Linked DNA regions of Homo sapiens: regions 1 and 3 are each reported to be linked to region 2. The links are microRNA targets in miRTarBase. Many come from high-throughput screens and were not tested one by one. Region 2 holds a microRNA gene; each other region holds the end of a gene's coding sequence.

Region 1 (10,288 bases), not on the chromosome of region 2:
CTCAGTGATCTGCTTTGAGTCCTCCAAAACTACAAACTGCCCTAACCCATGCCGAGTGAGAGAGAAGGCATCTGGAACCTAGGTGTGAAACAAGGGAAACCCATGAAGTGACCCACTTTGCCTGGCACCAGTTGTAAACAGTACAGTGGATGAGACTGCAGGCTCTGGAACTAGCCTGCCTGAGTTTGTAACCTGACTCTGTCAGTTACTAGCTGTGTGATCTTAGGCAAATGACTTAAGCTCTCTGGGCGTCAATGTCCTTATCAGTAAAATGGGGATAATATAACCCACATCTTAGAGTTGTTTTATGAATTAAGGTTTTAGTACATGCCACAAATTTAGTGAGGCAGTGTCACTGTCTGGGGTAATTATCCGACATTTGTCATCTCACGCCAGGGAACTCGAGGACACAGACACACAAGAAGTGGGTTTAGGACCGGAGGTTTAATAGACAAAAGAAAGAGAAAGGAGAATAGCTCTCTCTCTTGCAGAGAGAGAAGGGTGCCCAAGTGGGACTTCCAGTCTGTGGCGAAGTGCATAGGGTTTTATAGACCGGCTTGAGGTGGCGGCGTCTGATACATAGGGCTCAAAGATTGGTTGAACCGGGTGTGACATTTACATAGGGCACGAAGAAGCTGGCCACCCCATCCTAATCTTTTCATTATGCAAACGGATTTTCTACCTGGCGGGCACCATCTTGTTTCCTCCTTACTGTTCATGTGGTTGACAAAGAAAAGGGAAGATGCAGCCACCATGTTGAACATGCCTAGCCCCCAGGCAGCCTCTTCCTATTGGCACAGCTGCCAGTATGCACCCATGCAAGCTTCCAGCTTGCTTATCTATGTCTGCAGCTCAATTTTACAGGCTGCTCATTTGCTCAAAGAAATGATTTGGGGGTTGCTTTTTATTAAAAGGAAAACCTTACCGAGGACTTCTTTACCCTCACTCTCTGCCTAAATAATTCATTTTTAACCAGTATATCATTAGCACAGTTCCTAGCACATAGCACTTAATACTTATTTTAGGGTCAACTGTGGCCATTTAAATTATCACGAGCTGGTGAGCCTCATTCTTCCACTCTATATTTTCTTCCTTGTCTTCCAGGAAGCTTCTGGAAAAAATTAGGCTAGATCTTAAAGAAACAAGTCTCAATCTTAAAGAAACTTGGCTGTTAGAAAGCAAGAGTTTTAATAATAAATATAAAATTGAATGCACCTCCTTTTGTTCCTTCCCTATAAAAGTGCTTTTCCTTTTTCTTCCTTCCATTGACCCAGCCCAGCCTTCCCAAACTATACATCCTTCTTCTGCTCATTGCTCTCATATCAGTGGTTACATAAAGAACAGAAAACACGGCAAATGCAGAGAAAAGTTATTGAATTCATTTTAGGCACACCAAAAACTTGTTGTATTAGTTTAAAATGGGTTTATAATTCTAAACCATTTTATATCATTCTACCTCTTATAGCAGTTTTCTTATTAGAGACTGATATAAGTAATGTTTTTAAGAGGACGTCCCATCATCAATAAGTTTGTGAAATTCTGCATAAAGTAGGGTAGATGAGTTACCTTAATATTAACGTGGATGATGCGTGTTCATGGGTGAGAAGTCATGAGTAGGATTCCCCGTCTTTTGACTCTGCCTCCCACTTTGTAAAGGATCTCATAGCGTTAGCACTCCAGAGAGAACACTTTGGGAAATGTCTTATAGGAAAAAGGAAAATATTTCCAGGTTTTGGAAGAATTGTTGGTGAACAGATTAAAGGAAAACCTAATACTGTATGAGTAAGTTGTTATGTATAAGAAAGAGAAAAGATTGTTTTTCTCTTTAAAGAAGTAGCAAACAGTAGGTGTTTTCCATGTCTCCAAAGAAATACAATGAATTTAAAATGCTTTAGGAAAATGAACTGAATGCTCTTCTGCTCACTCTACCCCACACAAAATGCTCATGAGATATCTATTTAGCATCTTCCCAAAGGAGAGACTTCCCGAGTGTGTCCAAGACTGGGCCATTATTGGAGAGTGATGAAGTGATGATCCTTTAATACTATTCTCTGCTCCATGAATATTTCCAGATACTGACCTTGGTGATAACCTGCTCTTACCTAGACTTCCCATTTTTCCTACTCAAGAAAATTGAAAATGTAATAATATTAACTTTTCTCTTTCTCTCTCCCGCTCCTCTCCCCTTTCCTTCTCCATTTCCCCATCCTGTGTCTTTTCCCTTGTCCTCCAGGAACCTTCTGCATCATTTCACTGTGCACCTGTGTGGCCGGGATCAACTTTGAGCTGTCACGCTACCCACGCTACCTGTACGGACTCCCTGATGACATCAGCCATGGCTATGGCTGGTCCATGTTCTGTGCATGGGGGGGCCTGGGCCTCACACTCATCTCGGGATTCTTCTGTACCTTAGCCCCTTCTGTTCAACCTGTCCCGAGGACCAACTACCCTAAATCCAGACCCGAGAATGGGACAGTGTGCTAAAAAACAAACCCATACATACATATATATATATAAATATATATATATAATATACATATATAAAACAAAACAAAACTAAATCAAGACGATGCCAGTGCCAAGGTAGAGTTGAGTTGGCTCAGGCACCTGCATCTCGCCGGACTTTGTGTTGCCTCATCTCTGAGATGGGGAAAGTTTTTCCATCCTGTGGCTCTTCCATCAGTTCTTGACTTTTGGCTTCATGGTCTCTTGAAGACAGAGCAAACACCACCACTTGCGACCGCGTCTTGATCCCCATCACTGGCGAGGATGGGGTGGTGAAGGGACAGTGGAAGGGGTCTGAGGCAGCACAGATGTAGAGAAGGAAGTGCCACCCACTGGGTCAACGGGAGAGGACGCCACCCCTAACCAGTCATATCACAGGGTAACAAAGCCCTCAGTTCCTAGAATGTAACCAAATTATTGAGGCCATTTTCAGAATCACTTCTTCTCCTGCTCTTCCTGTTCGGACTTCCTTCCCAGCCCACCAGCAACACACAAGGAGTGGAAGAGAAAACAAACTGAGAAGGACGTTTTCTCTTTGCTGCCAAACTTTTGGACCATGTTTCATAGGTGGGAAGGGAAGAGAACATGCTGAGAGGCAAGATCTGCATCAATGAAAGGACGCTTCGGTGGATGCTCAGACAACCCAGTCTTACCTTCCAGCTGCCTTACACCCAGTGAAACAAGAGGCCACCCTGTCCCCAGCCGCACCTGCACTCCCTGGGCAGACTGGAGCCTTGGAGTCATGCTGTGATGTGTGTGTGTGGGTGTGCGTGCATGTGTACTTTGGGCGGTTTCCTTTTTTTCTTTTCTACCTTTTAAATGGAAATACTGCATTATGACTGTTGTCTCTCTTATCACTGTAGTGGTTTCATGGCCCCAGATAGAGGCCCAGAGACCTAGAAATTGTCATGAGGGACAGGCCTATAAGGGTGCCAATTCTGCAGCTACAGATCCCTGGAGTGGTGTGTGTGTGCGTGTGTGTGTGTGTGTGTGTGTGTGTGTGTGTGTGTGGTGGATGTTTCTTGAGCGTGGGGTTTTATTGTTTGTGTTGTGTTTTTTTAAATTGTTTCTGGTATAGCTGAAATTTCCAGAGGGCAGAACCAAGAACAAAGCCACTGGGCCAGAGGACCCCCGTGGTTCTCCACATTACAGCTCTGGGACTCTGCACGATTTAGTCCTCTAATTTTGGAAGTTCAAGACACAGCTGGGCACATAAGCCATGAGAGAAGAGGGGGAACACACAGTTCAGGAGAGAGAAGAAATGTTGCTCTGGTTGCTGTTGTACAAGAACATAAACCAACAAGACCTTCACTCCCCATTATAGAAGCTGTCCTTTGTCACTGGACATCTCCCCTTTCCCTAGGGGTGACCTCTGTACAAACGAAAGGAAGTGGGTCACATGCAGAGAGAGCACCTCCATTTCCCATGGGCTCAAGTTTGTATGATATTGTGTAAATTAATGCAGAACTCTTGACTCTTTCCATCCTCTTCCTTTCCCTCTTGATATTCAAGGCCATGAATCCCAAAATAACAGTCTTAGTGGCTAGCACCCAAACAGAGGTGGAATAAATCCACCCCAGTGTCTCGGGCTCATTTGAGCAAATTAGCACTGCAGGTGCTGGCAAGCAAAGTCAGCCAGAGAGTTGTGAACGCTGTAGGGGTGGGAGTCTGCTGGAGTGGGCTGGAGCCGCTCACAGTCATCTCAGTGAGCCTGCTGGTGCCCAGCAGCCCTGGGGAGGCCAGGTGAGAATCCCTGAGCTGGTGTAGCCATGGTCAACTGTGTAGCAGAGAATCCCCTTGTTTCATAAACAAATATGCTTTGGGAGCTTTGCCAGGCACTCAGCAGCCTTTCTTCCACTGCTGTGTAATCTGTTTCATTTACACGTCTTCCAACCCATCTTCCTACCACTCTCCTCCTTTTCTCACCTACTAACCACTTACCTTCTCTCTCTTCTATCTTCCACCCTCATCTGCTCCTTTGAACTGCGTGTATGTAATTCATATCTGGATATGATATGACATCTGATGTGCATGAATGGGGTTGAATGTGGATCTCTCTGTATGTGTATCTCTCTGGTGCATTTTGTGTACGTTTGTGTCAGTACACACCTGCACACAGGTGTGGGTGCCCTACTCAAGACTTCCTTACCGGGGACTCTGGTCAGCTTCTGCAAAAGGTCTCATGTGTGAGTTCCCTGTGTGTGGGTGTGCTGGGCGATAGGGTAAGGTGTGCAACGGGAAAAGTTGTTAGCTTCCAGTTGGGGTTCTAAGGATTATTTTTAAAACAAAGGATTTATTCTATGAGAAGGGAAATAATTTTCAGGAAAACCCAGTTTTTCAATTGGGCATTTTATTTCTAATTTTCTTTGAAAAGTTAGATTTCTCCCTTAAGGGGAAGGGCATACTTGGGCTTAAGGAAAAGTGAAGAAAAGTATCTCAGATTGAGAGGCCTTTTGTCTTCCTTCCAAGCGTCCTGAAGGGGCTCTGCCGAGGAAGGGACAGACAGGTTCACAAGCATCCATTTGGGGGAGAGGGCTTGTCTATGACCACACTGAAATTCCAGCTTTTTTCCAGTTGCAGGAGAGAGGGGAAAAATTCTAAATGGGGAAATTTGCTATGAACCATTTAAACTTTTTGTAAGTAATCATGTTTGAGGATGCTGGCTCACAGACCTATCATTATTTATATCCTCTTTTTAAAAAAAAATCCCATACTTTCAATGAATAGATTATCTGCTCTATCCAATTATTGTCTTTGTGACAGACATTTAGCAAAGCTTACTGCATCCCTTTGAAACCTTGAGAGTTCCTGAAATGTTAGAAAGCTCCCAGGAAAGACGTAAACAACCTGGGCTCAACTCACCAGCCCAGAGCAGGGGCTTTGAGTGACTTCTTTGATAGCAGGACCAGATAAATACGAACACACTTTGGGATCTGATCCTGCTGGGAAGCAAAAGACGCCCAGCCACATGACCAGGATAGAGGCCCCTTTCAGACGGCAAGTCCTGGCCAATGGGAGGACTTCTCAGGTGACCTTGATCCCTCTAGCATAAGGGCTTGACCACAGATTAAAACATGTGACTCCAACCAGTTACGGAAGCTTTCTGGCTGTGAGGTAGCTGAGGGAGATGAGGAGGAGGAAGAGAGGAGCCTTGACTTGTGAGGCTCTGTAGGTCAGACTCTGCTAACTCCAAATCAAAGTGGAACCCAACCTTATGAGGGCATTTAGGGTCAATGACCTCACTAAAGTCACCAGCCGCAACCCCAGGTCAAGTTCAAACTTCTTACTGGCATATGAACATGTATGTGCTTTGAGCTCCATGCAAGTCAACCTTGAGCCTGGGGCCCATTGCAACTTTTATTTCCTTCCCTACTCTACTACCTTGAGATTCAGGAAAGTGAGGTATTCTACCTAGAGAGAGGTCCCATATCTTTTTCTCCTTATTTTGGGAGTTACGGTTTCTTCTTCTGTTTCCGTTTCCTCTCTCTCTACTCACTCCTACTTTCTCCTGCATCAACTTTGGTCAATTAACATAGACAAGTGATTCATCTGTAGAGAGGCTCCTAGACTCCAAGCAGCCCCCTTCCTTGTTCATTGTGGCTGTAGGTTTTATAAGGAGGTCTGTGGCTCCCTGGCATCAAAATATGAAAAATAAAATCTGTGCCTGTTCCAGCTTCAATCCTCCTCCAAGCCTTAGCTTTTCAACAACCCTACCCTTTCAACTTCAGGGATCATGGAGTCACAGAGACTGGACAACTCCTCCAAATCTAGACAAAGACTTTCTTAAGCGCCCTGAGCCCAGGTGCATATCTTCCCATCAGGGATGAGTGGTCCCACCTAGCAATGCTTGCCTCTCCTGTGACAAGAGGGTAGGATATCCTAGGACTCTGAGACTGGGCCCTATATCTCAATATTCATCCACACTCATGATAAGATGCCGGAAATGAATGCACTGTGTGTAGCTGTCTTGATTTAGTGGGAGGATGTGCTGCTTAGGTCTCCAAAGATGCCCACCTGGGTCAAATTCAGAATAATGAACTCAGGTACATCACCCAGAGGCATTTAGAATGGACTCTCTCTTCACCTGGATTATGTGCTGAGTGTTAAGTGATTTTTCAAATATCTGGGGGAAGGAGTGGGAAGAGATACACTCTGGTCATCCTTTGGTGTGGTTTGTGGGGGATACTTGGTTGATTCTTGTAGTTAAAGTGAAGTTGCTTTTCTGAAAATGTTCCCTGTCTTCAGGGGACTTACCCATCCCAGGGGACACATCCATCCCAGGGGACACAGCCAGCCCTTTCCAGGGAAATACGATGTTTCTGAGTGAGAGGTGATTTCAGTGCAGATAGGAAGAGCTGGTGCACACCAGCAGGGTTGCCTTCCATGCCATCTTCCAGCTGGTGTGGGATAGACTAAGGGGGCAGATTTTTAAGAACCCCACCAGAGTTGACATACACACGTGATTCTCGTGTCTGTCTCTCAAAGCTCTCAATGTCTGGGGCTGTGTTTGCCCTCTTTTCATTGATGCTGCCATGATGCAAAATGTTTCTTAAACATTATTCCTGGTTCTTAGAATATGTGATTACTGAGTATTGGATTTCTTTCCTGAATAATAACTGCTCATTGTAGAAAATAAGAAAAATAAAATACAAAAAAGACTACAAGATTTTTCATAATCCAGTCACTCTGAGGCATCTACCGCGGGCCCAATCCAAATGGTCATGACCTCAAAACTTCCCCAATGAGTGCTTGTCTCTGGGTTGGCAGCTGGGGCCATGTGAGCAGTGTACACCACAGAACCGCACTGGTCTGCGTTGAGTTGACCCTGTGTTCCTGGCAGCAAGAGTGCAGGGCCCTGAGCCCCCAGAGATAGCAAAGAGGCCTAAAAGTTTAATGCCAGACCTTAGGGGCAGGATGGAGCAGGGCTAAAAGATGTCTCTTTGGGCCTGTCTGCCTGCTTTCCTTCCTTCCTTTTCTTTCCTTTTTTTTTTTGGTCAGTTGCCATCTCAATCTAATCATAGATGTAAGAATGCGGAAGCCAGAGTAACTCACTCATTAAGCTACACTTGTGTAACAGTTACTGTAAATTTCACTACAGCTCTGCACTGAAATGATTTGTGACTCTGGGCACTGTGTCTTCTCCATACTTGAACTTCCTCATCTACAAAATGAGGATAAGTGATAACACCTTACCTCATGGTATATTAAGGGTGACAAAGAAATTGCAAAGTGATTTGCAAACATGAAGTGTCATATGAGTTATGTATGTTCTAATTATCCCTCAGAAGACCCCCCGCTGGAATGGAATTCTCACATCAAGTGTCTGTGCCTCGCTGCTGAAGGATAACCCAGAGTGCAAGGTCATCTTTGTTGCTGAACAGGGCTGGACCTGTCGCACTTAAGCACACTTAAAGGATTCTATTCTTCATTCAGGTCCCCCAGAGAAATTGGCTCCTTATTTTTCTTTACCTATTCCTAGACTTCCTTTTGTCTAGAGCCAGTTTTGCAAAGGGCACTTTTATCCATCTCAGTTATTCCCAGAGGTGACAGAATGAGTAAACCATATGGGGCAAATAGCATATATGAGCTAAACCAGTTAACTGTTAACCAAGGCACATGGTCAATGCCTTAGTATTTTTTTTTTTAATTCTCCTAACGTTATTTCTAGCTGTACATTCCCAAAAGGAATGGGTGGAAGCAAATCAGATTCTGAAAGGTTTCAATGATCTTTCAAGTTTAGGATGAGACCAAGTCTCAAGGAGCTGGGATCTTCTTTCTCTTGTCAGTTGCTGAAGCCAGTAGCTTCGTCAAAAACATATGAATTCATATAAGGAAGCCCTTTAGATGGTACATTCACTAAGACGTGTCTGGGTGTGATCCTGTTTGGGAAAAACAGAATCCTAGGTTCTAAACAAGAAAAGAACGCCCTTCCCAAAGGGTCCGCACACTTTCTGCTTTGCAGCGGATCAAGTGTCCTTGTGAGGGTGAGACTTCCTTCAAGGGAAGGGAAGCCATTGCTCTCTCTGTAGATAGAGCCCAGCTGGTAACGGGGGAGCCACCCAACTGCAGGGGGGTGTATGTTCAGGTGTGAAAAACAGAAAACTGGGTCTGAACATGAAGAGTTGCACAGCAGTAGTTCGAAGAAGCTGGCATCTCTTTGGCAAACACCAACCTCAGCAAATGCAACTCCTACACTTCATTCCCAAGGACCAGGTGTTGCTCCTTAAGGAACTCTGTATCCCTCTCTCCTCTCCAGAACCCCATTCCTCCCACTGGCTGAGCTTTTCCTTTCCTTTCCGGGTCACCCATAGACCCTCTCCGTCTGTACCAGTGCGTCTGTGTTGTGAGCGTGACGAAGCCTTTCCTGTGAAGAGCTTTCATGAACTCATTCTCATACTCCTTCCCCATTTCCACCCATGGTGTGACTGTTTTGCTATTCAAGACTATCTGTAAAAATGTACAAATAAAAGTGAAAACTGAAAATAAAGGGGAGGGAGATTGAGATTAAACAAATGCAATGATGTAGCCCTTAGTTTTCTGAGGACTTCTGTGGACGGCCCTAAAATCCTGAGTTAGGGTGGGATATGAAGGGAGGGATACCATTGACACAGGAGGTTTTTTTCTGGTTGTTTCTCTCACAGTCATCAGTGTCTGCTTAGAACTCTCTGTTCTAAAGGTTTTTCCCTGTAAAGTAGAATGCACTTCCCCCAAAATAAAAGTAAATCAGCAATGTTTGAAGGGTCATGGCAAGGGTCATGACAAAGACCTGACTCTGGGGTGGCATGAGTGGCCCTGTCACCGGCTCACTCAGGGCCTTGGGGGAGTCTCATTACCTCACCTTGTCTCCACGTCTTCTCAGCCAAATGGGGATCAGGGGCTTCCAGGGCTCTGGGGGTGCGCAGTCCCCTTGTGTATTTTGCTGCTATTTCTAGAGAGACTTTGAGCCCTTGCTAGTGCGTGCTTACTGCATGGAGGTAAATTAGGAGATGTTTTCTCTCTGCTACTCCTGGCCTCTGCTTTCGCCCCTCAGAAAGTGACCTTGAGCTAGCAGCCAGTTTGCACTCAGAGTCCAGAGCCTTCTATCTACCGTTTCATTCTCAGATTCCTTTTCCCACCCACTTTGACGATCTCATTTTACTATCAGTCTCTACTGACTGAGCTTTGCTGCACTGGGCTGGGGTAGGAGAAAGAGCATCCAAGGAGATGATGTGTGAATTGCTTTGTAATTTATGACTCACCATATAAATGTGGCTTGCAGTGTCAGAAGCAGGGAGTCTGGCCAAGGGTTGCTACCAAATAAGACTGAAGATGGTGGAGGCAGTGGTGGCGTGGAGGCAGTAGGCAGAAGATGTGGGTTGGGAGCAGAGGTAAGATGAACGGAGCTTTGGGAAGGACAGATGGCAGAAGCACCAGAAAATCCTCAGCAAGGCAGCAGAGAAGGATCCTCAAAGCAGTAACCCTGAAGTAATAGGAAGTAGGAAAGAGGAGCAGGGATTAGGTAAATCTGCAGCATAAACAGCTGTCTCCCTGCAGGACTGAGAAGACCAGCTGCCCCAGAGAGGGGAGGCACGTCGAGCTTGGCCAGTGACCCAACCCATGATTAGAGGCACCTTCAATCCCAACTTTCCTCTCCTCTGCTGGGTCACAGTGATGGAACCAGCTTCAGGAAGGTAGTATAGACCAGCGTCATCCAATGGAACCATGATCCAAGCCACATATGCAATTTAAAATATTCTAGTAGCCACATTTTTTAAAGTCCAAAGAAACAGCTAAAATCAGTGAA
Region 2 (10,288 bases):
TTTGTCTACCTCACTGGTTTCTATTAGCTTGGTGCAAAAGTGATTGCACCATTGAAAATAATGGCAAAAACCGCAATCACTTTTGCACCAAGCTTATCTATGGGAGACTATGCAAAAATCTTAGTAGAGACAGGAGTCAGGAGAACCACATCCTTTTCCCTCAAAGGCCAGCATAGTCTAAAACACGTGTGGAGAACAGCCTGCCAGCTGAGCGTGCTGGGCTGCTTCCCTCACTCAAGAGAGCTATTCATTGCTCTGTTGAAGAAGGAACTCACATTTCTCGAAGGTCAACCAGGCACCTCACACACATCCTCCTACACAGAAATCCTATGAGACTGGCACCATTATCATCCATCTTTATTTTGCAAATGAGGAGCTAGAGGTTTCACTGTGCTAAGCAATTGTGAAGGTCACTCACCTAGAGGTCGTAGGGTCTGAGGTCTGCTTGTTCCTAAAGGAGATGCCGTCTCAGATTGTAACACTATCAAGTGCTATTACATTTATTAAAGGACTTTGTAAACTGAGAGATGCAATGCAAATCTAAGAGACTGTGACCTGAGAGTTATTTCACAACAGCTACAAATTCAGTAAGAGTAGTTCACTCAATTTCAGAAGTTCCCTTTTGACAGTCCTCTCTCTAGTTGATGTTAAGTGTTGCTAATATAGTAGATACTGACTAAACTATACAAGAAGTCAGATGTGCCTTCAGTAGCAGCTCCATGTTTATGAACTGAAATTTTAAAAAACTGGCCCAAGAGCATTGCCCGGTAGACCCTTGATCTTATGGCGGGCCTGGCTTGGTGGGATGAGGACACCCGACCTGAAGTGTAGTCTCTGCCCGACCATTATGTACAAGATTTTGCACTGGACCAGCACTCTGGGACCTTCTTGGGATAGGGACCCTGCTTTAATTATTCATGTATCTCTAGGGCCTATCAGAGTACCTGTCACATAGCGGACCCTTAATACATGTTTGCTTGTTGAATGAATGAGCACATGGAGAAATTCTGATTATAAAGGAGGCATTGTGTGGAATGGAAAACACTGGACTAGCATTCTGAAGACCTGTGTTCAAGTTCTGGCTCCGCTAATTAACCAGCTCAGTGCCTCTGCAAGTCAGTGAACTTCCTCTGAGTCTATGTCCTCATCTATCAAAATGGGGTAAAAATTTTTCTCTATCCATCTCATAGAGATGCTGTATCAAATGAAGGAATATTTGCAGATGAACTTAGTTTAAGTCTATTCAAACATAAGTTACACCATTTTATTATATAGAGTCAAGAAACTGCAGCATGTCACAACCAAAGCCATTGCTTTTTGCAAATGGGAAATCTGATGCCCAAAGAGAAGAAGAGCAGATCCCAGGCCTTTTGCTCACTGCTCTGCCTTACTAATGCCATATTGGCTAACCTCATGAGTGCCCTTGCCAGAGCTGGTAGGTCTTCTTCAGGCTAAACCCAAGGCACCCACTTCACTGGGTGGCCCATAAGCTTTTACAAGATATCTGGGGATACACTTCAGAAGCAGATTGGGCATAAGGCTCTTCATGTGTGACTGCCTCTGTCTTCTGAAGGTTTTTGGGGATGTTGAATGGAGTTTTTTCCAGAATATGGGAAATACGGTTGAAGCCCAGCCATTCAGTTTTCCAGTATGCTTGGGTAGCTCCACAATCTGGCCCCAGTTTCTTTCCAAAGTGTCAGTCTTCATCACTCCCCAGTTCATTCCTCTGTCCCTACCAGGCTGGCTCCTCACCAGTCTCTAATCTGCTTCAGTCAGTCTCTGTGACCCCAGCCATATAATTCTTCCCTTTTTCCCCTTCCACCCTCCTTGGAGTCCAGCCCACCCCTTCTCCATCCAAATACCACATATTCTTGATAAAGAGCTCAAGTCCCATCATGCCAAGATGTCATCCATGACTATCCCAGTTCATAGGGTCCTTCTATCCAGCCAGCCTGCACATTAACATCTGCTGTGGCATGAGTTGTGTCTCCCAAGAAGATATGCTGAAGTCCTAAACCCCGTACCTATGAATGTGATCTTAGTTGGAAATAGGGTCTCTGCAGATATAATTAAGATGAAGTCATACTGGATCAGAGTGGGCCCTAAATCCAAAAACGTGTGTCCCTCTATGGAGAGAGATTTGAAGACACAGAGAAAATTGGAGTTATGCTGGCATAAGCCAAGGAACACCGAGGATTGCTGGAAACTACCAGAAGCCAGAAAAGGCAAGGAAAGATTCTTCCCTAGAGCCTTTAGAGAGAATCTGGCCCTGCTGACACTTTGAATTGGGACTTCCAACCTCCAAAACTATGAGAGAATAAATTTCCATTGTTTAAGCACCCAGTTTGGGGTACTTTGTTATACCAGCCCTAGGAGACCAGTACAACATTTTGGGTCACTGGTTGGGCTTATAGGCACCTGACTCACCATATACTACTGGTCACCTTCTCATGAGAATATTATAGGTCAATGAACTGCCTGAGGATAGAAACTGTCCGCCAAACTTCCTTGCAGCCTCCCTAGAGCCTGGTGCCTAGTGACTTGATTGATTTAACCTCAAGCATGAGGATTCAGCTTCAACATTCCATCAGGAATGGGGCTGCTTTAGAAAAGGCACTTACTTTCTTCTCAGACTCAACAAGTAATGCCAAATTAAAAGTAATGGCAAAAGTCACAATTACTTTTGTGCCAACCTAAAAGCAACATGATGAAGTAGAATGTGGGTGACTAATTCTCAGAGAACACATCTCCACTTCTTAGCTGCAATCCAGTAGCCCCAATGCATTGAAACAAGCTTACCCGAAACTTTTCCTTATACCCTACTGCCACCAAACCCTACACCAAATGCAGTCCAAACACCAATCCTTCACTCTCTGTCCCCAGCAGGGCTGGCCTGTCCAACATCCTGACCTTCCAACACTGCCCCCACCTCCACAGACATATTCTCACCCACAGTGACTTGACTCTGTATTTTGGTCCCTATCTCAGTCTTCATAATCAAATTCTATGTGAAGTTAACCTTTGAAGTTCACAGCCCCATCATAACTAGACAGAGAGATGAGCCCACATGAAACAGTGCTGGCCACTGGGCCAGTCATCCCACTCCACGCACTTGGGCCCCAGAGTGAGCATGAGATTGGAAAGGAGAGCCTGCACTGCCCTCACCAGGCCTTAATTTGATCAGGCCTCTGATGGTGTCAGCATCTCACCGCACTGAATGTGCATCTAGTGTTTAAAGACCTGCATTTTTCATACAGTGTGGCCTTAAAGTCAAGGTATGGACTTCACCTGGTACAAGAGCCATGAAGTGGTAATAAGGGAAACTTCTATAAGTGATCTTCCCTTGACCTCTGAGTAGCATGAGACTTATAGGGATTGCTTCTTCCTTTTGCTTCCCCTGCCCTCATCTTCTCCTTCACCTGGGTCATGCCTTGTCCTCCCTCTCTGTGAATCTAAATCCTACCCAAACTTCAGTGTCCAACTCAAATATGGTCTTCTCCAATAAACTTTCTTTCATTCCCCAAGTAATGACTCCAGACTCTTAACTCCCATTAAAACCTCTCCTTTGGCATATAGTTAGAATATCTTATTTCATGGATATTTGAATATGTCTTTTATCTACTATTTAATCACAGACTGGAAGGCTTTTGAGAGCAAAGATCTTATCTTATAATCTTTCCCCTTCAAGGTTTCGGGAATTAAATGAGAAAATGTAATCCAATGGCCTCTGTGATGTCTGGCATATAGTATATTCTCAATAAATGTCAATTCCTTTCCCTTTTACACATCTTTGCATCCCCAAGAGCATTTTGCAAAGTCTTTTGAATCATCTAGCTGCCTAATAAATGTTAAATATATGAATCAATGCACAGAAATGGTAATATTTCAACTGTTTTCCTAAGGTCAATGAGTACAGTTCAGACATTTCCACTTTTCTCCCACAACTCCTGAATTTGTGGGCTCATAAAGATTATTTCTGTTCCACACCTCTGAAGCTGAAAGCAATATTATGAGGCAGGAGGTAAGCAGTGGAAGGCTGACAGCGTCACCCAGCAGTGAGTCCAGAAGCAATCATCTAGGGCCTCCAGAACTGGCTGGACAAAATCAGGCAGCAGCCCAACCAACCTTTAAGCTATTTAACTAATTTAGTCTTTGTAAAGAAATAGTGTGCAATTAATCCTTATTTTGCACTCATCTCATACTTTTTCATTAATTTCTAATATTTTCATGTTCTTAGGTAGGTGAGGCATCGTATATAGCACCACTTTTCTTAAGCAAATTTAAATCCTCAGAGGTGAAACCCAACCAGCATGCCAGTAAGTTCGAATAGAGTTGGCACCATTTGATGCTGTCAGTTATTAGGAGCTGAACAAATTCTAGATGTTCCTGAGATGAAGTGGCAGGGAACAGATACAAGAAGACTCCTCCTTCATCCCTACTCTTAACACCATGGGACCTATTTATGCATTCCTCTTGAAAGGGAGAATGAAGAGTCCAGAAACTCCACAGGCTGGCTGGTCACTCCAGAGTCTCTCAGCTAAACCTTTGGATGGAGCAGGCCTTGCCCTCAGCATTGGGTTACCTTTGTTTATGTTCACAGAAAGAAAAGCCAGCCCAGAGCCCGAGACCCCCCAGCAGAGGCCTGATTTCACACACATTTTCCCCAGATTCCTATTGGCTTGGCTGGAAACCACATATTAAAACCCACCAATCTTTCCACTTGAGCCTGATGAAAGCTTCACCAGAAACAGCTGCACTTCACATGTGGTTTAAGTTAATATCTTATCCCGACGGTTTAACTCTAACTGGCTGGGCTGCTTTTTAATATTCACAATCCTCTTTTGTTTCACATTAAGAATATGTCTTTCATTACTCGCCAGAGCTGGGGGACACAATGAAGCTGGTAGCACTTCATTTTTGAAATGTCTGGAATAATTGTTTGTATTGTGTGTTACTCAAGGACCACTCCAGGTTGGCTATCTGAGATGCATATGAAAGTGTTAAAAACCCTAACGTGAACGTTGCTAGACCTATGTGGAATGTTTTCCTATTAAAAAAGTAAAGCCACATACTAATGGCTCAGATTTAGTTTCTAAATCCCAGAGCTCGTTGAGTCAAGCAACATGATAAGTTCATTGCTTTGTTTCTTCCAACGGCTCTCTAAACCACCCCATCCCTTCAGCATATAGGAAAGTTTAATCAATATGTGGCTAATTTCACACACAGGCATGCCATACACATATGCACACTCTTGCTTTGTATCTGTACTGGACATGATTAACTTTCAAGTTCATAGAAATCGTGCAACTCTGGTTTCCCTGGCAAAATGCACATCAGGTTCTAGAGGTTTTGCCCTAGCGGCTCCTCCTCTCAGGATGTGATGTCACCTGGGGGCATCTTCACTGTGTGACATCATTTGTTATGCAATGGTGAGTTTGAGGTGCTGGGAATATTCTGCAGATTTCCACTTGTCTAGCACTTGTATAAAAAAGGTCAAGATTGGGAAGATTTCAACAAGCCCCTTTTGTACTCATTAGTCATTAAGATATGGCTAGACTTTTTGATGACTCTTGAATTTTTTTCCCTTATTTTATTTCTGTGTTTGTATGAAGTATTGTCATCATCCCTGTTTTATAGGAGAAGCTGAAGCACAGAAAAATTAAATAACAAGATAACATGGATAATAAGTTATTATAGCAGAGACTAGTTATCCCCAATATCGTTTTCCCATTCTTCTCCAGTCATAGAACTACAGAAATCAGAATTGTATTGATTACTATTGGCTGGGCATATAGCCACCCAAATAAAGATTATGAAGTAGGAAGAATTCTAAATGGTCCCCAAGATTCCTACCCCCTGGTGTATATAGCCTTTAAACCCCCTTTTCTTGAGTACAAGTAGGACTGGTAATAGGATGAAATGATTGCTCCTTTAGATTAGGCTGTATTATATGATAGCAGTAAAGGGATTTTACAGATGGAGCTAAGGTCCCACATCAGTTGTCTCTGAGTCAGTCAAAAGGGAGATGACTCTGGGTGGGCCTGGCCTAATCAGGTGAGCCCTTAAAAGAAACTGGGCCTTTGCTAAAGAGAAAGAGTCAGAGGAATGCTCTTGCTGGCCTTGAAGGTGCAATGCCTTATTGTGGAAAGGGCCACATGGCAGAGACTAGCAGCCAGCCTCTAGGAGCTGGGAACGGACTCACTGACAGCCAGCAAGGAAGTGGGACCTCAGTCCTGCGATTGCAAGGAACTAAATCCTGCCCATAACCAGTAACTTTGGACAAGCATCCTGAGTCTCAGATGGGATCACAGTCTTGGATGACACTTTGATTGCAGCCTGATGAGACCCTGAGCAAAGGACGAGCACTCCTGATCCCCAGAAACTGAGAGATAATAAAGTTGTGTCGTTTAAGCCACTGAGTCTGTGCTCATTTGTCATACAGCAATACAAAACTAATGCAGGTTACACTTCCCAAATGCCTTTGCAGTTGGTGTTGCCATGTGACTAAGTTCTGGCCAATAGGTTTTAGCTGCAGTGATGTGAGTAGCTTCCCTCTGTACCTTCCCTTCATCTCTCCCCTCTTCTTCTGGCAGGATTATGGATGTTGTGGAAAGCCACCTAAAGCACAGGGGTGAGAGAAACACCCTGAAGATGGTGAAGCAACAAGATAAGAGCCTGCATCCCTCAAATTTTAGGATTGCCATATCAGTCCTGAACTGCTTACACCCACACTGTTAAGTGATCATGAAATAAACACCCATCTTGCTTGGTGAAGGCATTCTTACCTGGTGTTTGTGCTACAGGGGTTGAACCTACCCCGACCTAACAGGCAGAGCTCAAAATGGACCCAGGTGGTGTGATCCCAGAGCCCATTTACTTAGCTCCTTCACCACCCTGCCTCCCAGGCACCATATTACATCACAGTAGAATTGGAATCTCACACTGTTAGAGCTTGATGAAATTGTACTGGTCAAGTCAGTCAAACCAGTCAAGCGGACAAGAAAGAGGGACTCAGATCACCTGGAATTATGGCAATGTCTTGCAAGGATACTTCTGAAAATCGGGTGTCACGGGAAGCTGAACTTTGCATCCCAGTTCTGAAACATACAGCAACCTCATGGAGACAGATGCATCACTCGGCATTTTGGGGCGGTAGCGAGTTCAGTGACCTGCCAGATTTCTTAGCATTAACTTGAAAGAGAAGACACTTATTTGATTTGATTTGATTTCTACTAGTCAAGTGGGCACCTGGATTAAGCAGACTCTCCCCCAGGCACCCCGGAGGCCTCTGACATCCCTTATGTCCAGCCCAGACATGGCCTTTCTGTGGCCTCAGCGTATCTGCCCAGTCCAATCGGCTATAGCCAGAATAAAAAGGTTGGTTTCCCTCCACCCATGAGCCATGCCATACATGACATGCATGTGAATAATGATCTGAGCTGTGTTATCTGGCAGAGGTGATGCTCACGGCTCTGCTCCATGTTCTGGGACATGACTGGACTCTCATTTTAGGGAGGAAGATCCAAGAGAGGGAAGGAGGCTTTCCCAGCTACTTTCCTGCTAACCAGGGCAGAGGCTGGTCTACATCCCCCTATCCAGGTGGCCCCTGCAGTCATGGCTTTTCTGCTTCTAGAAGCCATCCCTGAGGTCAGCTGAATTTAGACCTATGGTATCTCCAGTACAGCACTTTGTCATCTGTTTGTGATAATAGTTTTCCAATTCTTGTCACTTCCGCCAGAACATCATTGCAGAACTCAAAATACATTGCATCATACAAAATGAAGTGGAGAATTAAGGTAATTATCCAATTATTAAAAACCATTTCTTATTCGTTAGCTAAATAACTCTTCAAGTCTCCATTTTACATGTGTTCCTCTGATGTGAATTTGACCCTGGCCTATTTGTTTTTCAGTAAAGTCCAAAATCCAAAATAGCCCAACAGAAAGACCCCCTCCCAGTATTCCACAGCATCAGTAATAAAGCTCCTTATCAGATCTAATTTAAATCTTTCTTGAAACAACTTAAGTCCTTCTGCACCATCCTCTGCAAGTGCAGAACAGCCAGAGTGCAGGTTGCAGGATGTGGGGGGATTATTACAGTGAAATCGGCACACGGATCTCAAGATGAAAGTTTGCTGTTTCTCCAGACCGTCTAGGTGACTGCCTTTTGAAATTGCACACGGCTTATACTGCCATTCGTGTAGTTTAAGAAAAAAATTAAAGTATAAAAGGAAACCAGCAGTGTTTTAAGAGATTTCATTTCTGCTTGATGCTTGTACTCATTTGCAGGGAGGCAGGAGGAGCGCTTGTACTATATAGGGTCTCTGGAAACACTTAAAGTTCAGAAAGACCCACGACCCCAATCCAAGCTTCTAGACAGAAGAGAGAGGGTGCAAAGGTAAAACCCTCCCCTTACTTTATTCCACATCACATTGGGGTAAGTGGTTTGCCCCTCGATGTCCACCCTTTACCATTCTGTGCCTCAGAGGCTGACACACCCCCACAGCATCCAGATTCCCCTGCCCTCTGGCTTCTGACTGAGATCGACCGAGAGGCAGTGTGATCATTAATTTTAACGTGTCAGCTTGGTTGGACATGGTACACAAATACACGGTCGAACATTATTCTAGATGTTTCTATGAAGGTGTTTTGTGGATGAGAATAACATTTAAATCAGTGGACTTGAAGCAGAATACCCTACATAAGGTGGGTGGGCTTTATCCAATGAAGGTGGAAGGCCTTCATAGAACAAAGACTGACCTCCCCCTGAGTGAGAAGGAATTCTGCCAGCAGACAGCCTTTGAACTCCCTGAGTCTCCAGCCTCACAGCCTACCCCATCAGTCTTCGGACTCACCACGCCTCCACAATCACATGAGACAGCTCCTTAAATAAACGAATGAATCTCTCTCTTTTTCTCTCTCTGTCTCTCTCTCTCTGTCCCTCTGTCTGTCACACACACACACACACACACACACACACCAGTGGTTCTGCTTCTCTGGAGAACCCTGACTAGTACAGGCAGCAACGCTAGGAAATCAGACCAGATGGAGGAAGGGAAGCAAGTATTTATCCCCTAGCTCCTCCCCTGTGGGGTCTGCACACAGCCCCAGCCATCTCAGGGTAGGGGAGCCATGCCCCCCCCTCACACCCTCAGGCCTGCAGGTGATACCTGCACTCTCTTTTCTTAAATCCAAGGACTGCACTAACCTTGAACAATTTCCCCACACCATGCTCACTCCTTTACAAATGATCCTCTAATTAACTGCTCAATTTATCCTACTATGAGCCTGCTGAAACCTTGACTAACACCAGTGTCACCAGAATGTGGGGGCCATGGCAAACTTGATGTGGCATTCAGGGCCTTCCTTGTCTGACCTCAACCTCCCCTTCGAGGGTCTTTTTCTGCCATGTTCATTCACTCCAAAGACACACAAAAACACACAGTAACATACTCAGTATTGTCACCAGACTGCGGCTCTCCCCCACATAGCAGCCCCACTCCAACACCTCTGTCACTCTCTCTGGATGTCAGCACCCCACAGTGTCCTATGCGCATTACCAAACAACCACACACTAGTAACTTATAAATGAATAAGAGGGCGGGGGGGGTGGCTCACACCTGTAATCCCAGCACTTTGGGAAGCCAAGGCGGGTGGATCACCTGAGGTCAGAAGTTCGAGACCAGCCTGACCAACATGGTGAAACCCTGTCTCTACTAAAAATACAAAAATTAGCCAGGCATGGTGGTGGGCACCTGTAATCCCAGCTACTTGGGAGGCTGAGGCAGGATAATTCCTTTAACCCAGGAGGCAGGGGTTGCAGTAAGCTGAGATTGCACCACTGCGCTCCAGCCTGGGCAACAGAGCGAGACTCTGTCTCAAAAAAAACAAAAAAAAGAAAGAAAGAAAATGAATAAGAGCTGGGAACCACTGCCCGTTGTGGCTATTTGCTACTTCATCACATCCCCCAACTTTGGTTCTGCAATCATGTATCCTCCATCTCGTCAACCAGTTAGTGGGGTCGGTTGGTTTGTTTGTTGTTGTCTTGTTCAACCCAAGTCCCCTTTGCCCCCTGTAGTCATATTTGTAGCCAAGTTGTTAGGGTATTTAGCAAGGTATGGGAATCTGCTGGAGTAAGCGATTGCTTCATTTTGTTTTCACACCACGTGCTCAAGAATGTCTGAGCAGGTATGACAGTTTTTGTTTTGTTTTTTGTGTGTTTAAATTGCTTAAGATGCTCCAAAGGCTTTGTTTTAAAAATAAATAATAAATATCACAGGGAAAAATGA
Region 3 (9,962 bases), not on the chromosome of region 2:
ACCCTCCAAGATCAATGGCAATCTCTGCTCTAACTCTATACCCTGCACCACATTAACATTCTGTTCCACAATACCATCTGCAAAGATCGCAGAGCAGGCCCTTCTGTAGCCAGTTTTGGCTCCTATTATGAATAATTCTTTTTTTTTTTTTTTTTTTTTTGAGACGGAGTTTCACTCTTGTTGCCCAGGCTGGAGTGCAATGGTGCGATCTCGGTTCACCGCAACCTCCACTTCCCAGGCTCAAGCGATTCTCCTGCCTCAGCCTCCCGAGTAGCTGGGATTACAGGCATGCGCCACTACGCATTTTGTATTTTTAGTAGAGACGGGTTTTCTCCATGTTGGTCAGGCTGGTATCAAACTCCCGACCTCAGAAGATCTGCCCGCCTCGGTCTCCCAAAGTGCTGGGATTACAGGCGTGAGCCACCACGCCCGGCCTAAATTCTTAGCTGGTTTGTAAAGTGTTCTCTTGGTACAATTTATCAGCCTGATTAGCGCTGGTTGAAAAAAATAAAATATGCCCTATATGGCCCTATAAAGCTAAATGTTAGATCACAGATTTCTTTTTTTTTTTGTTTGTTTGTTTTTGAGACGGAGTCTCGCTCTGTCGCCCAGGCTGGAGTGCAGTGGCACGATCTTGGCTCACTGCAAGCTCCGCCTCCTGGGGTCACGCCATTCTCCTGCCTCAGCCTCCTGAGTAGCTGGGACTACAGGCACCTGCCACCACGCCTGGCTAATTTTTTGTATTTTTCACAGAGATGGGGTTTCGCTGTGTTAGCGAGGATGGTCTCGATCTCCTGACCTCGTGATCCGCCCACCTCGGCCTCCCAAAGTGCTGGGATTACAGGCGTGAGCCACCACGCCTAGCCCACGGATTTCTTTCTTTCTATTTTTATTAGAGACAGGGGGTCTCACTGTCATCCAGGCTGGAGTGCAGTGGCACAATCACTGCTCACTGTGGCCTCAGCCTCCGGGGCTCAAGTGATCCTCCTACTTCAGTCTCCTGTATAGCTGGGACTATAGCCACGCACCACCAGGCCCAGCTAATTTTTGTTTTCTTTTTCTTTTTTTGTTTTGAGAGACAGGGTCTCACTATGTTACCCATGCTGGTGTTGAATTCCTGGGCTTAAGCAATCCTCTCACTTTGAGACCATGGATTTCTAGTTCTGCAGCAACACTCCTTGCTTTTAACCAATCTCTCGTCAACTTTTTTTGCTCAAAAATACAAAAGCAGGCCAAATGCTGTGGCTCATGTCTGTAATACCAGTACTTTGGGAGGCTGAGTTGGGAGGATCACTTGAGCCCAGGAGTTCAAGACCTGCGTGGCAACATAGTGAGACCTCATCTCAGAAATAAAAAATTAGCCAGGCATGGTGGCATGCACATGTAGTCACAGCTACTTGGGAGGCTGAGGTGAGGTGGGAGGATTACTTGAGCACAGGAGGGCGAGGCTGCAGTGAGCTATGATTTTGTGCCACTGCACTCCAACCTGGGCAACATAGTGAGACCCTGTCTCAACAAAACAAAACAAATGCTTCTCAGTTTTATACTTTTCCTTTCTCCTTTTTAAAAAAGAGTATATATTTTCTTGAGACAGGATCTTGCTCTGTTGCCCAGGCTGGAGTGCAATGGCATGATCATAGCTCAGCAATGTTGAACTCCTGGGCTCCAGCAAACCTCCCAGTCAGCCGGGCGCAGTGGCTCATGCCCGTAATCCCAGCACCTTGGGAGGCCAGGGAGGGCGGATCACAAGGTCAGGAGATCAAGACCATCCTGGCTAACAAGGTGAAACCCCGTCTCTACTAAAAATACAAAAAATTAGCCGGGTGTGGTGGCGGGCACCTGTAGTCCCAGCTACTTGGGAGGCGGAGGCAGGAGAATGGCATGAACCTGGGAGGCGGAGCTTGCAGTGGGCCGAGATGGCGCCACTGCACTCCAGCCTGGGTGACAGAGCAAGACTCCGTCTCAAAAAAAAAAACAAAAAAAAAATCCCAGAGTCTCGCTGTCATCCAGGCTGGAGCACAGTGGCACAATCATGGCTCACTGCAGCCTCAACCTCGCAGAGCTAACTTTTTTATTTTTAATTTTTATAGAGAAAGGGTCTTGCTATGTTGCCCAGGCTCATCTCAAACTCCTGGCCTCAAGCAATCTTCCTGCCTCGGCCTCCCAAAGTGTTGTGATTACAAGTGTGAGCCACCGTGCCTGATCTAAAAAAAAAAAAGAGTCTTATTTGAAGGAGTAACACAGAGTACCAAAAATTAAAAGATAACTGGAATTAGGTTAGGTTGCCTTCAATCTTTATTATCTGAGCCAAGAGTAGGGTGACAACCATCCTCAAAGATGGTCTCCATTCCTGCCTCTTAACGTTATGTAGATCCCTCCCAACTAATAGAGCTAGCCAGTGCAACCAATAAGATTTATGAAAATGACTGAGTGTGACTTCTGGGATTTTCGCCTTGCTCTTTCTGGGATCATTCAGTCTGGAGAAAACCAGCCACCATGTTGTGAGGATACTCCAGCAGCCAGCCCTAGGGAGAGATCCATGGGGCCAAGAATTATTGGCCAGCATCAGCCTGCCAGGCATGGGAGTTTAAGTCACCTTGGAGGTGGGACCTCCAGCCTCAGTCAGGCTTTCAGATGACTCTAGTCCACATAGAGATCCTAAATGTAACCTCATGATATTCCAAGCTAGAACCACCCAGTGAAATCACCTATCCATTCCAAACATAAAGAAACTGTGTGAGACAATAAATGTTTCTATGACAAGTACAGTAGCATTTCAGACCTTTGTTTGAGGGCCTGATTCTGGATATTTCTGTGCTGTTTACCACTGCTCTCCTCTTCCCCTCTCAGTGCTAGAGATGCAGCTTCCTTTCCCACGTATAAATAAGGTAACAGGGTTCAAAAGCAGGGCGAGTTAATAAAAAGATTTATCAGTCACCTTTTATGTTTAATAATGCTAACATTTGCTTCGAGGCCTCTAGGACTTACCCTTAAAGCTATTAGTTGTCTGAAATGTGAATTAAAATGCCTTTGACTTTAGTGCCCTACTTCTTAAATAAGGGGAAGACTCACATTGTAAATTACTGTGGTTTTCAGTTTATCAAGATAAAGGAAAAACTAATCATTACTTTTTTAGCTTGGCTATCTCAGTGCCCACCCAAACCCAGAACTACAGCCTACAAGACCTAGAGCTGGAATTCAGGTTTGGTCATTAGTGACCTTGTATCTCAGTTTCCTCATCTATTAAAAAAAAGAGCTCCATTACTCAGCTACCCCACAGCACCCAACCATTCATCTTCTGGTTTCTTCAAGAGTCCTGTTTTTAAAAACCATGAAACTGTCTTCCAGTTCTTGGTAAGACTTGGTGAGAATTATATTCCAATCCCAGGGATGTCAGTAACAACCCCATAGTCTTTCCTCCTGAACTAGGAAAGCTACAGAAAGGCTCTGGCAGAGCTGCCCAACTTGGGCACTACTGATGTTTGACGCCAGATACTTCTTTGCGGTAGGTGTCATTGTGTATACCGTAGCAGGGCAGCATCCCAAACCTCCATCCACTAGATACCAGCAGCACTCCCACTCCCATATGTGACAACCAAAAATGTCTCCAGACATTGCCAGATGTCATCTGGGGCAGAATCACCCCTGGATGAGAACCCACTGGGCTGGGGGATGGTTGCTAGAAAAACTGGGGTTCTTGGAAAGCTCCTGACCTGGCAGCCAGGGTAGAGGGGACTGGCACTACCTTCTTGCCTATGCCAACATAAAGTGGTCTACAAAGGAGCCCCACAGACTCACGTTGCATTCTCAGTTCTCAAAATTCCAAGTAGAATGCAGGTTACCTGGCAACCACACACGCTCAAGCCTATAATACCCTCACCAAACAGGGAGGCCTAGTGTAAGTCTCCTGGCCGAGAAGCCTCATCAGTCACTGCCAAGGCAAACCCAGGAGGCCTTGGCAATTCACCCAGTGATGATTTACAGTCGCCCAAGCATATTGCGGGGGGCGGAGAGGGGCTCTCGGATCTGTCACCCACTCTCCCTTTCAAATCCCATTGGCCTCCCACTGGCCTCCCTGGCTGATCTTCTAACAAGCCAGGCAGTTCCTGCCCGTAAGCCTTTTACAGCAAAAGCTCCCTGGGCCAGATATCTTTATTCGCTCCCTCCATTTAGGTCTCTGCTCAAATGTCACCTCTTTACAGAAGGCTCCAACCACTCCACGTAGTGGAGCGACCCCCGCACGGTACTGACCACCCTAAAATATATCCTACACTCGCTTATTTGCCTATTAAGATCCTCGCCTCTAAGCTGCTTGAGGAATTCTTGTCTGTATTCCCAATACCCAGTCTGTACCGGACACGGTTCATTTGACAGACGCAGAGGGAATTAACATGGAACCTTGTCATTCCTTGCAGTTCAGCCCCTAGGGGCCCAAGGCTCCCCGCTCAGCCCAAACCCTTCCAATATTTACTTATCCCCCTAGGGCCTGGCGCCTTTCCCAGTTCTGAAATAGACAAAAGGGGGTGGTGGGTGGGATCGGGATGGGGGTGTAGAGCTGCGGCGTTTTTGCAGAGAAACTGCGCGGGGGAGGACGCGACAATGGCGACGGCAGCCGAGCCTGCTGCCTGCTCGCAAGGACCAAGGCCTGAGAAAGGGAAACCTAAGGCGTCGAGGTCCAGGAGCGCAGGCCAGGGACGGAGGTGGTGGGGGCGGAGACCTCGTGCGCTGAGGCCCGGACCCACGGACACAGGCGACAGAAGCCAAGACATCAGGCGGCCGGGAGCCGGGACGCCGGCTGCAGACACAGAGAGCTGAGGCAACGAGGCGTGAGGGCAGCGACCCTGAGGCGACGGGCCAGCGGCGCCATTTTGTGACCGCAGGGAAGGCAGTGACGGGGCCCCAGGGGAGGTGCGGGCAAGCCTGGTGCGGCATCCGCACGTCCCTGTCCCATCCCCCACGCAGAGCCCGACCCCACCCTGCCAGGCCCACCTGTGTAGCTCATGGTGGCGGGCAACACAACATCCGACGACGCCGGCTTCTGCTGCTCTGAACATCCGACGCTGCGATAGCTGCTGCTAACCACAGGGTCCCCTCCACACACACCCGAGCCCCGCCTCCCGACCGCATTGGCTCATACCGGCCTCGGCTTCACGTCTATTGGAAGGAACCGCTGTCTATCTCTATGCCTCCTCATATCAGTGGCTGGAAGCTGCTGGCAATCTCGTGAGAGCCCCGCCTTGTCCCCGCCTTCTGTTATTCTAAGGCCTCAGTGATTGGCCTACAGAAGCCGGCAGAGAGGCGGAGTCCTATAGAATTTGAGGGGGCGGAGCTGTGCACTACGGAAAGGCCCAAGGCCCAAGCATGGTCGGGCTGGAGGAGCGCCCGTACCCTGGAGACCCGCCAGAGGGAGTCGGGTCTACGGCTCAGGGCAGGGCTGGGATGCCAACTCCGCCACCGAGGTGCTGGGTAGGGGACCTAGCTAAGTCTCTCAAATTCTCTGGCCTTCGGCTCCAAAACAAGCATAGCAAAGCCATGTTGAGAAGAGAAAATTAAAACAGCACCAAACAAGATGCTGGACACACGTTTCAACATTACGTGACAAAGTGTGTGTAAAGAAATCATTCTGGTGCCAGTGCACTGAATAAATGTGATTAATCGTAACAAAACGATAATATATTTATATGGCATATGCTTATATGTGTAATAATTCCGTTTGTATTGTGTGTCATTCGAATGCTCCTTCAAACCTGCAAAAAGCTTTTAATCCTCACTTAAAACTGAAGCTTGGAACTCATGATTTGCTCAAGGTCCTTGACAGTTACGTGTTAAAATGGGAGCTTTGCTTCTAAAACCCTCCTGATTCACTCTGGGCTCGAGAGATCCTGCAATAGTGCAGCCGGGCACCAGTCATGTCCTCAGTCTGTTTCCTGGGCATATGGAAACCCTGCCAGGGACAACTCATAATTTCTAGAGATGACAGAGCTGCACCGAAGAGTACTTAACACGTGTGTTTGTGAAAACTCATTAAGCTGCGCAATTACGACTTCTACGCTTCGTGTGTTTTAAAACTTTTTTTAAGGTATGCTGTTTCTTTTTGATATTGTTGATTTCTTTAGGTGTAATAGTGGCATTTACAACGTTGAGAGAAACATACTGAAATACTAAGAAGTTAACTGATCTTATGGCCAGGATGTGCTTCACACAATTCAGACAGGTAGAGAGAGGAGGAGGAAGCAAGGAGCTATAAGATAAATCTCTGACAGCTGAAGACATTGGTCATGGGTTGGTGATGGATAGATGAGAGTCCATTTTACTGTTTGCTCTACTTTTGTATAGTTGGAATTCTCCATGATAAACTGTTTTAATAAAACTCCCCCCACCCAAATGAGGCTTCTGCAGAACTTGCTGCCATACGGAACAAAGCCACTTCTGATGTGTTAAGTGAGCAAACTCCAAACATGAAGCAGAGATCTGACGGATAAGCACTCTGGCTTCGGGGTTCATCTCCCCATCAGCCTCAGGGATGCCTGCCTGTCTTCCAAACCAAGGCAGGGCCCCAGGACACGTCTTCTGCGCCCTGCAGGTTCGTTCCTTCATCGCACTTGCCACAGTCATCATTGTACCGATTTGATTTCGTTCACATCCAACACCCTCAGAGACCACGGCTCAAAAGCTGAGACTTTGCTGCCTGAGGTGTATTGAAGTGGCTTGAGCAGAGAAGAGCAATGCTCAGAAAGTTTTAGGAAAACATCCCCCTGCAAGAACTGGAGGTGACTCTTCCAAGGACACACATGACCCTCACTTCACTGCATGATTGGTGGGGAGGAACTTGCCATATGACTTTATAAGCTCTTGTATCATTTGACTGTTTTTTGTCACATCTAGCCTATACCACTTTTATATTTCAAAAACTGACTTACGGGCCGGGCATAGTGGCTCACGCCTGTAATCCCAGCACTTTGGGAGGCTGATCACTTGAGCTCAGGAGTTCAAGACCAGCCCGGGCAACATGGTGAAACCCCCGTCTCTACAAAAATTACAGATATAAGCCAGGGGTGGTGGTGCATGCCTGTGATCCCAGCTACCTGGATGGCTGAGGCAGGAGAATCACTTGAACCCAGGAGGCAGAGACTGCAGCGAGCCGAGGTCCCTACACTGCACTCCAGCTTGGGCAACAAAATGAGACCCTGTCTCAAAAAATAAAATAAAAAAATAAAAACTGACTTATGAAAAGTTGAAAGAGGAAGAAACACCTTTGAGTCAGCTCACAAGATGCTCTCCCTGCTTCCTAAGTCCTGGATACATCCACCCACCCACAGCACAGGATGGAGAGAAGTGGTTGCGGCCTTCTGCCACCAGGCGAGATGTGCGTCCTGACCCCACAGGAGCAGACGTGTGGGCCAAGACCACCCTTGTGGGCGTTATTGCAGCCTGTTAATCCCTCCTTCCCAGGAAGGGGTATGGTGGGAGGGCCCAGAAAGCAGGGCTGGGGGTAGAGGTGGCCCCTTCTGTCCACACGCCATGAGGTCGTTCCCACTCTCCAGCACTTGACCGTTTAGTAAAAACGATGAGCTGAAAAACCACATGCAATAAACAAGAAGGAGCAGCCAACAAAATCTCTTAAAATCTCAGAAATGTTCAATAAACATTTGCAGAGCGAGAAAATAAATAACATCGCAAAGGAGCCAGTGGCTCCTCTTTTCCCCGCATGTTCCTTGGGTCAGGGGTGCATGTGTCTCACTAGAAGTCACATGTATTAAAAGCAGGTGAGTTCCAGCTCTCTACAACCCCACTGGCCCCCACCCAAATGCTCCCAACGGGTCCCTGACACCCTCGCTGGTAGCTCCTGCCTTTGATAAGCTCCTCTAGCCTCAACTGCTTCTTGATCCTGGCTCCCTTCCCAGACAGGCTGCCCAGAACCCTGGTTCATCTGCTCACTGGAGCCGCTTTGCCAGCCAGCCAGAGACCCCCTCCCAGCCATGGCCTAAAGAGCCAACAGCTGGGAACTTGGGCTCATCCCCAGCTGCGTCTGGTCGGCTTGGCGGCCAACTGGAAAACCCAGGGCCTCCATGGCGCTCTGGACAGAGGAGGCCCCGATCCCAGCCCCGGCTGCCAGCCAATGCCAGCCTGTCCACTTGACAGAAAAACACACGCTGGCCGCCTGCCCCAGGGTGTTTCCAGAAGAGAAATTTAATCTAATTTACATACTTCTAGGTACATCGATAACCAAAATGTGGCCACTGAAAAAAGTTAAAAGGTCAATCAGCTCCTGGCTTCTAGCTGGCCCAGGATTGCAAAATAAAAAGATCCACGTTCCTTATTCTCTACACAAAACGCGTTTTTAAAAAAGTGAAAGGTCTAGGGAGCTATACATAGAAAGCAACAGTGAAAAGGGAGAGGGAGCAGGAGTGGGGGAGGAGAGTCCCACCCCCCAACCCCACCCTCCAGGGCCCCAGAGCCCCTGAGGCTCTTTGGGGGGCCTTGACATGGCAGGAGGCAGCTGTCAGCTCTGAGCTCTTCCCAGCTGGGAAGGCCCCTCTCGGGGGCAGCCAACAAGGATTTCCGTGGCATTGTGGGCTCAGTGGGGGGCTCCCAGGCCCCAGCAGGCCCCACAGAGGGAGCGTGGCTTCCCCTGAGCAAGCACCGTGGCATGATGTGGTCGTTCAACCCAGGAACTGGGGGTCCGGGGCAGGTCCCGGGTCTCACGAGGTGCGTGTTGTGTGTGTTCGCATGTACATGTGTGTGAGAGGATATTCATGGGGGAGAGAGGGAACCAGAACAGGGGTCTTTGGGGTCTTTGCAAATGGCCACGGATGGCAGACATCGCCCTGCCTGGCTGCTAGACGGGGGAGTGCTGTCCTCCCCTGTGACCAGACCGGCTGCCATCAGAGACCTGGCTGCTGCCCCTGCTGGACCAGGTGGGCATGGGCTGAAGGAAGACACCCTGTGGCCCCAGAGTCCTCGGGCTGGGGGAAGGGCAGCTAGCTGGCTCCCGGCGCCCTGGCTGTAGTGTGCCCGGCCCCCAAGGGGCGCCGGTTTGAGGTTTTGGCTTGCTCCTTTGGAAACGGAAAGAAAGAGGAAGAGGGACAAGGACACAGAGGAGGAAGAAGAGGAGACAGAGGTGGCACGAGAGGGGATCTGGAATGCTTTTGTGTTAGGGAGCCTCTGCCGCCGCTGTCTGTGCCTGCGGGGCCTGGGACTCCTCAGGTGGGGGGTCCGCTTTGGAGAAGTTCATCTCCAGGATGTGCCGCTGTAAGTGCCGCACCCACTCTTCCTGGATGGAGAGGGGGCCCTGGAATTCCACCTCACAGAACCTGCATGGGGGAACAGAGAGAGGGAGTGGCCAGTGCTGTGAGGAGAGGCGGAAGCATAGCCTTGCCAGCATCCCTGGGCACACCTGCTGCTACTCAGTGTGGACAGAGCCAGCCCAGGAGGCGGGGGAAGAGGGACCCAGAAGTCAGGCGTTTCCCATGGACAGCCACCTCCACTCACCATGGGGTCATGGCAGGGTCTCACAGAGACCCCTGCCTCTGTGCTCAGAAGTCACTGGTGCCAGGTAAGGGCTACTGGCTTCCAGGTACCCCTGCCATCTGGCAGATACATAGAATCTGAGACAGTAGAGGGCACAGAGAAGCAAATCCTACCCAACGCACCAAGCCCCCCACCTCCTCCTGTCTTCCTGGCACCTAAAAAGGCCTCACAGCACAGAGGCCTGGAGCCCAAGCTCCATGGCTCAAGACGTGGCTTTGACTCTGACTTCTGACTTGGCCTGTATGGCCTCAGGCAAGTCACCTCACGTCTCAGAGTCCCAGTTCGCTGCTCTTCAATGTACTTGTGGACTTTGGTAAGAATTAACTAAGATCTACTTTTTTCTTGAGCCAGACACTAGTTGAGTGCTTACTTACCATGTGCCAGGCAGTTCTGAGTGCTTTATAAATATTAAATTCACTTACTCCTCGTAA

Evidence for each region. The annotated mature microRNA hsa-miR-4268 reads GGCUCCUCCUCUCAGGAUGUG and lies in region 2 at 5,360-5,380, shown strand. An mRNA with a match to its seed (bases 2 to 7 or 8) in the 3' UTR can be bound and repressed. Matches are read on the target gene's strand: a 7mer-m8 pairs with bases 2 to 8, a 7mer-A1 pairs with bases 2 to 7 and ends in A, and an 8mer does both.
Region 1: the mRNA of TMEM178B is a reported target of hsa-miR-4268. Seed matches in the 3' UTR shown: 7mer-m8 at 5,649-5,655 and 8mer at 9,988-9,995.
Region 3: miRTarBase lists WIZ as a target of hsa-miR-4268. Seed matches in the 3' UTR shown: 7mer-A1 at 9,052-9,058, 7mer-m8 at 7,860-7,866 and 7mer-m8 at 7,692-7,698.

What each region holds. Positions count from the first base shown.
Region 1 is chr7:141,468,303-141,478,590 of GRCh38, forward strand. TMEM178B (transmembrane protein 178B) reads left to right here. Exons shown (of 4, transcript NM_001195278.2): 4 at 2,234-10,288. The coding sequence ends at 2,484. Among named protein-coding and RNA genes, the nearest start is that of AGK-DT, 78 kb to the right of the region's middle.
Region 2 is chr2:219,901,604-219,911,891 of GRCh38, reverse strand. MIR4268 (microRNA 4268) reads left to right here and starts at 5,327; the gene lies at 5,327-5,390. LINC01803 (long intergenic non-protein coding RNA 1803) reads left to right here and starts at 7,003. Exons shown (of 3, transcript NR_146975.1): 1 at 7,003-7,377; 2 at 7,513-7,647; 3 at 7,739-7,841. It overlaps LOC105373890 (a long non-coding RNA gene), which reads right to left and starts at 6,881. Exons shown (of 3, transcript XR_923927.3): 1 at 6,786-6,881. RefSeq lists an enhancer at 3,334-5,528.
Region 3 is chr19:15,413,922-15,423,883 of GRCh38, forward strand. WIZ (WIZ zinc finger) reads right to left here. Exons shown (of 13, transcript NM_001371589.1): 13 at 6,057-9,314. The coding sequence ends at 9,155. AKAP8L (A-kinase anchoring protein 8 like) reads right to left here and starts at 5,067. Exons shown (of 14, transcript NM_014371.4): 1 at 4,990-5,067. The coding sequence starts at 5,002. RefSeq lists enhancers at 117-618, 619-1,118.